Linked DNA regions of Homo sapiens. The protein of the gene in region 1 interacts with the protein of each later gene in a biochemical or structural test. Each region holds a gene or a part of one and is shown on either strand. Other genes may lie near its edges.

The links.
Region 2: the proteins of DICER1 (region 1) and DHX58 form a complex in vitro, tested with the Homo sapiens proteins (one study listed by BioGRID).
Region 3: the proteins of DICER1 (region 1) and PRKRA form a complex in vitro, tested with the Homo sapiens proteins (one study listed by IntAct).
Region 4: the proteins of DICER1 (region 1) and EIF2AK2 form a complex in vitro, tested with the Homo sapiens proteins (one study listed by BioGRID).

The regions. Positions count from the first base shown.
Region 1 is NC_000014.9:95,102,030-95,105,529, forward strand, and holds part of DICER1 (endoribonuclease Dicer), read right to left. Parts: intron 3,218-3,500; coding exon 3,042-3,217; intron 2,098-3,041; coding exon 1,317-2,097; intron 1-1,316. UniProt on the Homo sapiens protein: Double-stranded RNA (dsRNA) endoribonuclease playing a central role in short dsRNA-mediated post-transcriptional gene silencing.
Region 2 is NC_000017.11:42,102,632-42,106,223, forward strand, and holds part of DHX58 (ATP-dependent RNA helicase DHX58), read right to left. Parts: intron 3,359-3,592; coding exon 3,105-3,358; intron 2,537-3,104; coding exon 2,387-2,536; intron 2,297-2,386; coding exon 2,135-2,296; intron 1,168-2,134; coding exon 977-1,167; intron 1-976.
Region 3 is NC_000002.12:178,434,099-178,437,690, forward strand, and holds part of PRKRA (interferon-inducible double-stranded RNA-dependent protein kinase activator A), read right to left. Parts: intron 2,222-3,592; coding exon 2,047-2,221; intron 1-2,046. UniProt on the Homo sapiens protein: Activates EIF2AK2/PKR in the absence of double-stranded RNA (dsRNA), leading to phosphorylation of EIF2S1/EFI2-alpha and inhibition of translation and induction of apoptosis.
Region 4 is NC_000002.12:37,132,947-37,136,538, forward strand, and holds part of EIF2AK2 (interferon-induced, double-stranded RNA-activated protein kinase), read right to left. Parts: intron 2,601-3,592; coding exon 2,538-2,600; intron 1-2,537.

The DNA.
Region 1 (3,500 bases):
AAAATAAAAGTTTCTACCTCTCAGAATTATAAAAATTAAATTAGGTTTATATGCATATATGTGTATATATGTGGGTGTGTGTACGTGTGTGTGCGTATACGGTTATCTTTTAGAGTAGTGCAGAGTAAGCACTTTTAAATTGTTAGCTAAAATTATTTCTTCTGAAATTCTCACTCACCTCAGCCCCTTCCTCTCTACCAGAACTCTAGTTCTATCCCATTCTCTGCTTCTGCTGTTGGTTTGGATATGCTTTTCAACTCACACTACATTCTGCTACCAGATTAATCATTTTAAACTACCACTTTATTAACATTAATAGTTCCTTGCTCTAAATTCCTTCAACAGTGCCTACAACATTCAAAACACGTGCAAACTCCTTAGCCCAGCATTCAAGGCCTTCCACGATACAGCTTCACCCCAGCTGCCTTTTCAAGCCTTTTCTCAGGTATTTCCACACTTCTGACTGCTGCCACGGCTGCTTCCCTGACGCTGACATGCTCTGCCATCTGTTCACTTTGCTTATGCACTGTCAACTTGCCTCCTCCATTAATGCCATCCTTGATTCAACAGTGATGCTCCTTCCTTCTGAGTGCTGCAAGTGATCAGCAGCTTTCTAAGGTATTTGTCCAGGAGGCTCATGTTGCCTTGTGAGACTTTTTTCCATTTTTCCCCCATAACTTGAATATCTTACCTTCATTCCTTTTCTTAAGTCTTAGTCCATGCTGAGTTTAAGAGCCCGCCCTTTCTCTGAGCTATCGAGCGTTAATTACTCAGAACTCTGGTGTCACCCTCTTCACACTGGAGAGCAGCCAAGCTCTGTGAAGCTTGTTACTCTTCTCCGCTCCACTCTCCAAAACTTTGGAGATGAGCTCCTCCACAAGACTTGTGTCTTACTCATGTCTGTATGCCTTGTAAGCCAAGACGTACCCTCTCAAATAAATGTTTAACTCAACAAAGCAGAAGCTCCTTGACTGACTACAATGCACATTTCTTCATATCCCCCTCAGGATCAAGGGGTGTACACACTTGCATAGCTTCCTTTGAACTGACTTTCAATCAAAAAGTAAGGCACGTGGAGATCAGCTAAGCCCCAAAACCTGAGTGTGGGATTGGTGTAAAGCAATACTCATCAACTGCCAGGTAGTTCTGCCACAGGCTTTCGCTGGCCCTGGTAGAACAAGGGAGCAGCTGTGCTTGGCCGGTGTAGCAATTTCTGAGCATGATACGTTCTCATCCTCTGAGATTATCCAACACTGCAAACCACTTTCAGGCACACTGAATAATTAACTGCTCAAAATAAAAAAATCATCTCTTACCTTTTTGCTTCTCATATATGAAAGGCGGCCCTCATGCGCATCAGGGTAAGTGCAAAATAGATATGTGGTGATGGCATGCTTTAAAAAGGAGTCGCCAAGCATTTCAAGCCGCTCCAGGTTAAATCCATCACTAGCGTTTGACAGAGTCAAAGCCTGAAGAATAAGTCCAGGATTGGGGCCAAGAGTCCTTGAGGAGTACCCAATAGAAGGGCTCTGCTCAGAATCCATCCTGCCCTTGAGCACTTGAATAGTGTCTGTCGTACCAGGCATTACGGCCATCACAGGACTTCCATCTGAGGTAGATTTGTTAGCATTTCCATCAAGGTATTTATTACTCAGGAGAGTACATTCATCGCTGGGCTGGGGCTGGTTCTCGTAACTGTATAAATTCTGAATGGAATATGAGGTAGTTGGTTGCACGGGTATTTCCTGCTTGTAGTAATTTAGCTGATTTCCTTGGCAAAAGTCTCTGTTAGCTAAATCATAACTGCCATTGGCGAGATTTTGATTGTAAGAAAGACCATTAATTGCTGTAAGATCTGCTGAAACTTCAACGTGGAGCTTACCAGGGGACTCGCTGAGCAACGTTCTGCAGTTCACAGACATTTGGTCATGATTTTCTAGAGAGGAGGTTCTATTAGCACCTTGATGTGCAGCATTTTCAGGGACAATTGTGCTGTGCTTACAGTAATTATCATTTTCAGCTGAAGAGGAGTTAGAAATTGAGATGAAAGATTTGCTGTCAATAGATTTTTTCCACCCGAAGTCTAAGTTAGGGTATCTGCAAAGACATTTTTATAACTTTACATCAGATTCTTCAAAACAGCTAGGCTGAGAGCAACAGCAATTTGAATTTAAAAACAAAAACAAAGATCCCAAAAATGTACTCCTAAACTTTAGAATAGAAGCAAGTTTCCAAATTTTTAATTTACAGTGTAAATTATAAAGTGGGACATGGTTTTATCTACTGCTTTAATCCCTGGCCCTAGACTCTAGGTGTGGTAGTTAAGAAGGTCACGAAGCTTGCAGGCATCCTGCAGGACCTGGGGCCTAGCTTCACGGGTTGGAATCCCAGGCACTCTGGTTAACCCGCTGAGTAACTCTGGGCAACTTACATAAACTCTCTGTGCCTCAGCTTCTGCACCTGAGAAAAGGGCTAACAATTCCTATCTCATAGCACTGTCTTAATGATTAAATGAGCTAACTAACACAGGGTACAGCATTTAAGCTAGTGTTTGGCACTATAGCAACTAACCAATAAATATTGTGGTTATTCCTATTATATTTTAAAATTCCTTCAATCCCTAGAACAGTCTTGATATTGCCAATTGGATAACCAGAACTAATGTGAGTGTTTAAGCCAACAGTTTCTTTAGAATGCAGAGATTTTACTAATGGGAAGAAAATAATGAAGACAAAGAACATGCTAAGGCTATTGCTTTTTAACATATATTTGGATTTTTAAAAGAAAAAACAGACTGAAAATGCTGATGCAGTAACAAAGAACAATTTCATTCTCACTCCAACTGTTATGGCTTAAGCAGTAATGGTTATTTCTGACCTCAGATTCTCATCTCCCTCTGAGACTTGACAAGACATAAGATATCCATTATTTTCTTTTTACTCTTTTAAGAATTATTTTATATACAATTTTAACTTAATTCTGTTCTTTTGCAAACAGGATCTCATGATCTGTGTTCTTTCTGGCTGACTGCACAGGCATACCTAAAATCCGCAGGAAGTGATCTGACTCCCACGCCAGCATCGCTGGCAGTCTGGGCTCTTAGCTCCTCTGCAGTCAAAAGGCAGTGAAGGCGATAAAGTATGCTGGGGAGACAAACAGCTTTTCTCCACAGTGATGCTGGAATTGGATGTATAGCACAGAGTTCTGGAACCAGTATCTTCAAGTAAGGGGAAAAATGGACAGATAAATACAAAGCGCACACACAAAAGAAAAAAAAAAAGACCAATTTCACTAATGGATAAAGAAAATCATAAATGCTAGTAAAACTTAATTTTAAAAAATATTTGTAAAAATAATCCTCTAAGGCCAAATGGGATTTATCAAAGGATTTATGAGAATGATTTTGTGATATATTAATGGGCCAAGTATAAAAACAAAACTCTCAATACTTACCAAAAAGAACATTCAAATAACATTCAACACATAATACTAATTAAAAC
Region 2 (3,592 bases), on another chromosome or scaffold:
ATCTGCCCTGACATTCTGTTCCTTAAAATCTATCCAAGATTCCTAAGAGGAACCTCCTGGATAAAGGCTACACTTTCACACCTGACCTTTCAAATCTTCCACGGGCTAGTCTGTCTTTTTCTAAATCTCATTATTCACAGTCCCTTCCACTCAGGTCAACTGGTGTCGCTTTTTTTTTTTTAAAGGCAGAGTCTCACTCTATTGCCCAGGCTGGAGTGCAGTGGTGCGATCTTGGCTTGCCTCCCGGGTTCAAGTGATTCTCATGCCTCAGCCACCCAAGTAGCTGGGATTACAAGCATGGGCCACCACGCCCAGCTAATTTTTGTATTTTTTTTTAGTAGAGAAGGGGTTTCAATATGTTGGCCAGACTGGTCTTGAACTCCTAACCTCAAGTGATCTACCCACCTCCGCCTCCCAAAGTGTTGGAATTACAGGCGTGAGCCACTGCACCTGGCCCTCCATGGTTACCTTCTCATTCGCTCACATTCAAACCAGACCCATTGAGACCTAGCTGAAATGCAACCTCCTCAATTGAGAAAATCTGTGTGAAGATCCTTGGCACAGTGGCCCGGAACACAGAGGGTAACATAATGAATGGATGGAGGATGGGGGAAGGTTACTCTCTAGGAGATAGTGGATGGAGGATGGCCCAGGGATGGCCAAGCTCTCTTGATATCTTCGGAATAGGTAGGACCAGAGGGTCAATGTGTGGTCTTTTGACACTTAGTATCCTGAATTCCAGTTCTTGCTCAACCAGATAGTGGCTGTGGGAACTTGGGCAAGTCACATAGCCTCTCTGAGCCTCTATTTCCTTGCCTGTAAAATGGAGACAGGGATAAAACCTGTCTAACCAGATTATTGTGAAAATGCAAAGTACTTGCTACAATGCTCTTTAGCTTCCCAAAGCTTCAAAGCACTGTCTGGATGGGAAGGATTCCCAGGCCCCCATCCCAGTAGCCCCTTCCACAGGTCTCACGAGAAGTTGGGGTTCACATTGACATGGTGGGTGCCCTCCACCTTCCGCAGGTCGCTGCCATGGCCCACAGCCACCATGCAGTTGATGCAGAGTAGCTGCACGTGCTCCACTGGGAACTGCTGCCGCTGGTTCTCCCGCTGGGCTGCCTGGGCCGCCCGCTTGGTCAAGGCTGCCTGCTGCAGATCCCGGATCTGGGGTGGGAGGAGACACCAGGCATGGCTGGGGCCTAAGAGAACGTTCCTTGGGGGACAAAAGGTTCCCAAAGAACTAAGATCATTTGTACCTGGAAGAGACTTTCCTTAACCCTCCCTGGAGCTTAAAAGAAGCTCTATTGCTGTGATGATGCAGTAACTCATGCCTGTAATCCCAGCATTTTGGGAGGCCAAGGCGGGTGGATCACGAGGTCAGGAGTTCGAGACCAGCCTGGGCAACATGGTGAAACCCCATCTCTACTGAAAATACAAAATTAGCCGGGCATGGTGGCGCATGCCTGTAATCCCAGCTACTCGGGAGGCTGAGGCAAGAGAATTGCTTGAGCCCAGGAGGTGGAGATTGTGCCATGCACTCCAGCCTGGGTGACAGAGTGAGACTCCGTCTCGGGGAAAAAAAAAAAAACAGCTATGGAGAAAAACAGTATGAGTAGTCGGGGGCAACAGTGGGAGGGGTAAGCTTTCCTGCTCAATCTTGAAGGACTTTAGGCAAAGCTGCTTCTGTGAATCTGTCATGGGGCATCATTAACAATTATGCTGGGACAACAGGGAGCACCCTGGACAAGGCAGGATGGTGGTGGCCCTGCCTCAGGGGAACTGATGATATAAGTCCTAGTTCTGGGCTTATCTTCTGCACGTGGACTTATCTTGTCCCCTCTGCCTGGTTCCAGAAAGGCTGTAATGCAGCTCTTCCAGATACATAAAGTATCTCATGGCAAAGATAAATAAAGAGCCTTGGACAAGGCCTGTTCCCAAGGCCTTCTGGAGTCCAGGTACTGCCTTCCCTGGCAGCCCCACCCCGGCCCTTATTTAAACCTTCCCTAGGTGGCCAAAGTTAGCCCCGAGATGTAGAGGGGACAGGGGGACGTATGTGTGCAGTCAGAAACCTGCCAGGGAGGGGCTCCCTCCTCCCCATCCCTCCCACAGGGCATGCAGGCTGCCTGCAGACCTTGGCCTGGTACTCGGCCTGGTCCATTTTCTGCACAGCAGCCACTGCCTGCTCCATCAGCGTCTCCAGCGCCTCGTTGATCAGCTCCCGCTTCAGCTCCCGGCTACCTTCAGTTGCTACAAACGCGTATACACTCTGATCGGCCCGGGCACGGCCCCTGGCCTGGGAAGAGAGACAAGGGGTGTCCTGAGTTGGGCTGGGGCCCCACACAGGATCCTATAAGGGCGGCTGAGTGGAGGAGGATGTGAGTACCTGGACCATGGAGATTTCATTGGTCAAGAGCCCATAACGCACCACCACATTGCAATGTGGGATGTCCAGCCCCTCCTCCGCCACACTCGTGGCCACCAGAAGGTTCAGGGTTCCATCTTGGAACTTCTGGATCACTTCTTGCTGGTCCCTCTGCAGGCGGAGGGCAGGGAGGAGAAAGAGGCTGGTACATGAGGAGGCTCAGACTGACTCCACCTGCCAGAGTAGCCTCTTCTGGTTCAGCCCTCACTCCCAATCTTGGTCCATCTCCCTAGAGTACTTGAATCCCATCTTTATCCCCAGGTACCCCCAGGATCTTGCCCATCTTCCCAGGTAACTGTCCAACCCCTATCTTCCCTAGGGACTCCTAAGGGTCCCTGCCCCTCTAGTCTAGGAAAAACTCTCAAGCCATAGTCTTCTGCAAGGGACCCCAGACCTGATCCTGTGCCCTGAGGAACTGCATCACCCACCTCTTTCCCTACGGACCCCCATGCCCAACCTTCTGCCCCCAAGGACCTCCAGACTGGGAGAGGCTCCAGCACTGGGGAGGTCAGTGTCCGCCCCTCTCCCCTAGCTCCTTGCCCCTCTGCCTGGGGATAGTCAACTTTCTCTTTCCCCAGGGTCTCCCTGCCCCCACCTCTCTGTGCTGAAGACCCTGTTCCCCGCACTTCTCTCCTATGGAATCCCTCCCAGCGCCAGCATCTTTCCCCGAAGCCCACACCTGGGTCATGTGGGTGCTCTGGCTGCTGTTCCCAGCCCCAATCAGTAGCTGGGCCCGGATGTCCACAGTCTGCAGGCCCTGCTGCTGCTGGAGCCAGAGCAGGAGGGAGTGTGCGCTTTGGCGGGTGCGGGTGAAGATGATACCCCGAGGGCTGTTAGAGCTACTGAACTGCCTTTGCAGGATCTTTTCCAGCATCTCCAGTTTTGGATTCTCTGGGCCATGAGTTGCCAAGTGGGCCAGCTCATTCTTGCGGTCTGTCAAAAACCCCAAAATTTAGCTGGGTGTAGTGGCACATGTCTGTAGTCCCAGATACTTGGGAGGCTGAGGGCAGAAGGATCGCTTAAGCCTAGGAGGTCAAGGCTGAAGAGAGCTATGATTGCACCACTGCACTCCAGGCTGTGTAACAGAGTGAGACTCTGTCTGGGAAAAAAAAAAAGAAAGCAAGAAAGCAAGAGAAAGAGAGAGAGAGAAAGAGAGAAGGAAAGAAA
Region 3 (3,592 bases), on another chromosome or scaffold:
TCATCAGCCACCTTTTCTTTTTTTTTTTTTGAGACAGAGTCTCACTCTGTCACTCAGGCTGGAGTGCAGTGGCGCGATCTCGGTTCACTGCAACCTCTGCCTCCCGGGTTCAAGTGATTCTCCCACCTGAGCCTCCCGAGTAGCTGGGATTACAGGTGCACGCCACCTTGTCTGGCTAATTTTTGTATTTTTAGTAGAGACAGGGTTTCACCGTGTTGGTCAGGCTGGTCTCAAACGCCTGACCTCAGGTGATCTGCCCGACTTGGCCTCCCAAAGTGCTGGGATTACAGGTGTGAGCCACCGCACCTGGCCTCCAGCCTCTTTTCTTTTTTTTTTTTGAGACAAGTCTAACTCTGTCACCCAGGCTGGAGAGCAGCGGCATGATCATGGCTCACTGCTGCCTCAACCTCAGAGGCTCAAGTCATTGTCCCCACCTCAGCCTCCCTAGTAGACTGGACTACAGGCATGTGCCACCACACCCAGCTAATTTTTCATCAGCCACCTTTTCTAACCATCTGTCTGCACTGACTTCCCAGGTTCTGCATCATTATTGGTTTACTGAGACAATGCACTTCACCCGTCCTTCAATCCCAAAGTAGCACAGAATATCAGGAGTTCTTTGAGCCCCTAAGTGCCCTACTTTCCCAGGGTCAGGGGACCCTGACAAGCAAGGTCCCCACATCTTTCTGTGGTTGGATAGGGATATAAAATTTCTCACACATGTTAAATCAAGATACTTTGGCCAGGCACGGTGGCTCACACCTGTAATCCCAGCACTTTGGGAGGCTGAGGTGTACAGATCACTTGAGGTCAGGAGTTTGAGACAAGCCTGGTCAACATGGTGAAACTCCCATCTCTACTAAAAAAAAAAAAACTTTGGGAGGCCGAGGTGGGTGGATCATGAGGTCAGGAGTTTGAGACCAGCCTGGCCAACATGGTGAAACCCCGTCTCTACTAAAAATGCAAAAATTAGGTGGGTGTGGTGGCACACAGCAGTAGTCCCAGCTACTCAGGAGGCTGAGGCAGGAGAATTGCTTGAACCTGGGAGGCAGAGGTTACAGTGAGCTGAGATCATGCCACCGCACTCCAACCAGGGCAACAGATCAAGACTCCATCTTGGGGAAAAAAAAAAAAATTAGCCAGGCTTGGTGGTGGATGCCTGTATTCCCAGCTTCTTGGGAGACTGAAGCAGGAGGATCGCTTGAACCCAGGAGGCAGAGGTTGCAGTGAGTTGAGATTGTGCCACTGTACTCCAGCCTGGGCAACAGAAACAATACTCCGTCTCAAAAAAAAAAAAAAAAAAAAAAAATCAAGACACCAAACACACACAACTAATTAGCTCTATAAATTGAATTAAAAGAAAATCCATACTGACTTGCTTTCCCATCTGTCCATATTTGTCTATCCAAATGATTAAGGGCTAGAGAAAATACAGATGATGATGGCTGAGATGGGATAAAACTATAAATTGACTTGGTTCCATTTACCTCCCAGAATCAGCATACAGTGACAAAGTAGAGAGAAAAGGTCTGGGCACCACAAACTTGTACTTGTGCTAGAAATGTAGGTGCCTTTTCATTTGCCCAGCAGGGCTAGTTTAACAGCCAGGGTATCTTCTGGGACTCTTCCCCAAATCTTGCTCTACCGCTGACTAGCTATGTGATCTTGGGCAAGTTTCTCAACCTTTCTGTGCCTTTCTTCCTTTACTTATAAATAAGGATAACAGAATTTGCTTCATAGAGTTAGTCTGAGGATTCAGTAAGTAGATACGTGTAATCTTAGAACAGTGTCTGGCACACAGTAAAACTCTATCTTTGCTATTGTTGTTTTTGTTATAACTGTATAGATGTTAGCTATTATTACTATCCACAAGAATGGGACATATCAATTATATATATTACTGGCCTAGTAATTATATATACTTAGAATCCCTGATCAATAAAATAAATTGTAATAGAAATTTTTATTCCTCAAACACATTTTTGTTCCTCAAACACATTTTTAAATAAACATGTCTTGGGAAAGCCAAAGAAAAAAAAATCATACCTATATCCAAATATGTTATATTAAAACCTTGTTCCTTGGCAATTTCACTAAGCAGCTGGATGTAATCTGTATTTGGAATACTAAGGAGGCTTCTTTTCAGTAAGTTGATCTTTTCACCAGGAGAATTCCTCAAGGAATGCCAAGTACATCCTAAAGAATGTCCTACTACATTTGTCTGAAAAACAGAGATGAAGATTTAGACTCTTGACTAGGACTGGGTTCCAACACCCGTACCAGTATCATTAAAAGTACTTATTAAGCACTCACATTTAATATGTTATAAAGCATGTTTAAATGGATAACATTTGGTTAATTTTCCAATTTAAACAAGACAACATTAAAAAGTACACATTTAACAATACTATATGTTTTTAAGAAGCACTTGCAATAATATACTGAAAGCATTTTGTATTTTGTATAGTACAAATGTTTCTCAGTCAAGTTTTCTGATGGTCACATTAAGAGGTACAAGATATCTGGAAGCACCATAAGTAAATCCACAAATAATTAAATCTGCCTAATGGAGCAATTTGCAGATTAAAATATAGAACAATTTTCATATCTTTGGTTTTTTTTGTATTAAATACCAATCACTATAACTGACAGCTATCAAACAGGAAAAAAAACAGAAAAAAAAACTAAAAAAAACATGAAATGTGCGCGTTGGGTTTGAGGAACAAGTCATTCAAATAAATGACAGGATGTCAAAAAGTTCTTATCAGACTTCTATCCCAGAACCCAACTGAGTATTTTTTTCCTTTTTCTTTCTGCTTTTCCTCTTTCCTTTATCCTCCCCTATATCCTTCCCTTTTCATCTCTGTCCTTAGAATGCCTTATATTTCCATATTAGTTTATGGTTCTCAAATTGCTTTCATATGCCATTAATAAAAACAACTACTTTCTGAAGTAAGTAGGGTTACTACTCTTAATATTGTTTTATTAATGAGCACGACAGAGGGGAGGCAATTTCCAAAAGATTTTAGAGATGGCATGATATGGAATTAAGTAATTTATTAGATTTACCAAATAAAAATTTACATTATAGAAACTTTAAAATACTGTTTTTAAATAAAGAACACTATTTACATGGTTAAAAATATACATGCACTAAGAACAAATATATAATGAAGAGTACAGTCTCTTTTCCTTACCACCCATTCCCTGAAGACCTCTGTTCTATTTCTTAGACATACTGTTAAACATTTTTCAGTATCTTCCCATAAATGTTCTATGCATATGCAAGCACACACAATCTTTTAAAGCAAATGATAACTTACTCCTCTACATCTTGTTCATTTTTCTTTTATCAGTGCACATATATGCACTGTATTTACCTTACGGATCTCCAACTGTGAGCTTTAGGTTGTTTCTAGTTTCTTGCTTTTACTAGCAATAAACACTCTTTTGCACTTGAATGAGTTTCTCTGTAGAATTATTTCTAGAAGTGGAACTGCTAAGTCAAAGAACATGTACACTTTTAATTTTGATAAATACTTCCAAACTGATTTCTGAACCAATTTATACTCCTACCAACTGTCTTGGAGGG
Region 4 (3,592 bases), on another chromosome or scaffold:
TGTCACCTCCAAATTAATAACAGAAATCATCCCCAGGTTCAGGGTGCCTCCTTCTTTTCAATCTGATAATGGTCCTGAATTCATTTCTCAAATTACTCAAACACTTGCACAAGCCCTACGAATCACCTGGAAGCTACACATCCCCTATCAACCCCAGTCTTCAGGAAAGGTTGAAAAAATGAATGGCATTCTAAAAATCACCCGCACCAGGTACTCACTCCAAACACATAAAGACTGGGTTACACTTCTAGCTTTGGCCCTCCTAAAAATTCGGGCACTCTCACGTAAACCTTTAATGCTCATCCCCTTTGAACTCATGTATGGGAGTTTTGAGCATAAGTATTTGAACTCATGCTCCTTTTGTTCCACCTCAGGGTCAAGCCCCACCTCTAACAACCCCTCTCATTTCTCCTCTTCTGCATATCATCTGCCATTTCATTTGGGAATATGCTGACAAAATACAACTCCTTTAATCCCTTCCTACAGTCAGGAAACTGGGTTCTGGTAAAAGGTCCCAGCCCTACCCCCAATTCCCCCCTCACACCAAAATGGAAGGGGCCTTACCAGATCTTCCTCACTACACCCACAGCAGCAAAGCTCCAGGGACTCCCCAGCTGGTTTCATTATACTTCTCTCAAGAACACAGACTTCCCTTCACTACACATCCAAACAATCAAATCTAAACCACCTTCAGCCTCTCTTGTGTCTCCACAGGATCCACTTCCCTTCATCTCACATGAATGCCGGAGGAAAAGGAAGAGAAATTCACCTAAGCAGCTATGTCTCTTTCTCTCCCAAACTTTCATTGCTTCCTAACTAGCCTTGTTACAGACCTTCAGTGGTATCCTTATGAAACTCTCATTATACATCCTGATCAGCTCCTTACTATTCCACGGGATTTATGGCTTCAAGGAACCTTCCAGGACTTTATTCCTACCCAAACTTTTTCCTCCTTTTGTTGTTTCTTTCTATCTAAATTCCCTAATCACATCAACCTCACCGATACAACCACTCCTCACTGCTATCAAACTAGAACGTTCTATAAACCTTACACAACCCCTCTTGCTGCAAGCTAACTCTTCCTTTGCTCCAGAATGCTGGATGTGTTTATCGCTGTCTTCTTCAGCTTATACATCCCTTCCTACACCCCTTCATGACCTTTTAACAGAAAACGTAACCCTAATCTATAAACTCCAAAAAGGAGCTTCCTTTTTTGAAAGAGCTGACAGTCTGGTTGGCGATTATCCCACTTCCAAGGTCAATCAGGCCAACACATTATTTCAAACCTATTACAACTCCCTACAACGCCTTAAGCCACAAGGCCCTCCCATTGAAGGGCCCATAATTAAACACACCCCACTTTTACAACAAGCCTCACTTTGCTTTTCAGCCTCTGAGGGAAATTTCCGTGTAAGATCCTTAAACCTAACCAATGCAACCGCATTATCATTGTTAAACACCCTGCTGACCATCAAACTAACCGAGTTGACTACCAAGTATCACCTGAAACGAATGGAGCATTTCTGCAACCTGTTCGTTTTGCAGCCTCTCCCTCAACCAATGCCTCTGGCCTAATTTGTGCTGCCCCTAGCGCCCACCTTTATCCATGGCTCAACATCAATGCAATGGTGCAACATCAAATCGTATTAAATGTGTAAAAAATAACTCTTCCTATATCGCTACTATAGTGGGTGTCTCCTTGACCTCCTCCTTGACCACCTGGAGTAATGAACCATAGGAAAGAAAAAACACCCATCTTTAATTCACTTGTTTTCTTTCTGTATCTCCAACTGTATTTATGACAAAGGCTTATTTTTTGTGTGAGTGGCACCAACACATATCTTTGTCTCCCCACTAACTGGACTGGAACCTGTACCCTAGTTTATCTTTCTCCCTCCATTGGACTAATTCCTCCTAGCCAACCTTTGCCCATTCCATCCATCCAATACGTTAGGAAGAGGAGGGCCATCCACGTCATTCCTTTAATGGCTGCCTTGGATATAACCTCCAGACTTGGATTGGGAGCAGGCAGATTGGCCACTCCCTTAACATACTTTAAAGCTCTTTCCACAGAATTACAGGGTTCTTTAGAAGATATAGCCTGAAGCATTATAAGAGTCCAAGACAAACTAGACTCCTCGGCTGGAGTAGTCCTCCAAAACAGATGGGGACTAGATCTAATAATGGCTGAAAAAAGGGACCTCTGCCTCTCATTGGGTGAGGAATGTTGCTTTTATCTCAACCAATTGGGCCTAGTAAGAAACGCTGATGAAAAACTTAAAGAAAGGGCTAAAAAGCTAAGGGAGTATCAAAACAACCAACTAGATTCTTGGTTTGGGAACAAAATCATAATATGGGTCATCCCATTCCTGGGCCCCCTCTTAATGATAAGCCTAAGACTATTGTTCTTACCCTGCGTAGTTAATCTTATTCAAATATTTTTAACTGACAGGATCATGGCCATTTCACAGACAACTACCAAAAACATCCACCGACAGCATTACCCCTTCTTCTTTCTTCAGCACTTAAAATCTTACCTCTTGTCCACAGTATACTTTGTTTCTTTCATGTCAGGAAGGTCAAATCTGGGTGCCAAAGATCTAAAAATTAAGAGTTGAATGTAAAACTCAAATAAAATTGAAATCAAATATAACTTATTTAGTGTTAATGTTAACCTTTTTCTTTCTTTTTTTTTCTTCAGAGGCAAGGTCTCACCCCATCTCCCAGCCTGGAGTGCAGTGGTGTGATCATAGCTCACTACAACTTTGAAATTCTGGGCTCAGAGGAGATCCTCCCACCTCAGCCTCCCAGGTAGCTGGGATTACAGGCATGTGCCACCATACCTGGCTAATTCTTTTTATTTTTAGTAGAGACAGGGTCTCTTCATGTTACCCAGTCTGGTCTCGAACTCCTGGACCCAAGCCATCCTCCCACCTTGGCCTCCCAAAGTGCTGGGGATCACAGGCGCAAGCCACAGCACCCAGCCAACTTTTTTCTTTATAAAACTATATACTTACCGTTCTCCTCTGGCCTCTAATACTTTTTCATCCCTCCTCTGGTTCCTTTTTCCACCTTAGAGTGCTCATTGTTGATGCGTCACTAACCTCTCCTTTTCCTCCTCCAGACTCAAAACCTCAGGAAGTACATCTCCTTACACCCTCATCCTAGCTGTTATTCCTTACTGATGATAAGCCACCTGCAAATGGAAGTTTAAATACCACCTAAAACTAAACATATCCAAACTGCTGTCTTCTCTCTAAGCCCTTAACTCCTTAACTTCCTTAACACCATTAGTGCCATGGTTCTTGACTGCATCCTGTTCAAAGTGAAGCAATCTTCAAATCCTTTCTCCTTTACCTCTCCTTCATGCTTTCACTCAGCTACGGGGAACCTATTCCCTCAAGTCATGTCCACTCTTCCTTTACAGTCTTTCTCACACATTCTCCTCATCCCTCCTGACTGCCACAGTAATCGTGGCTGAGGGCACCTCATGTGCAGAACTCTCTTCTCTCCATCCAAGCATCCACATCAAGAACCATGTTTCTTCAATACATCTATCTACTGCTCAGAATATACTGGTGGCTCATAATGG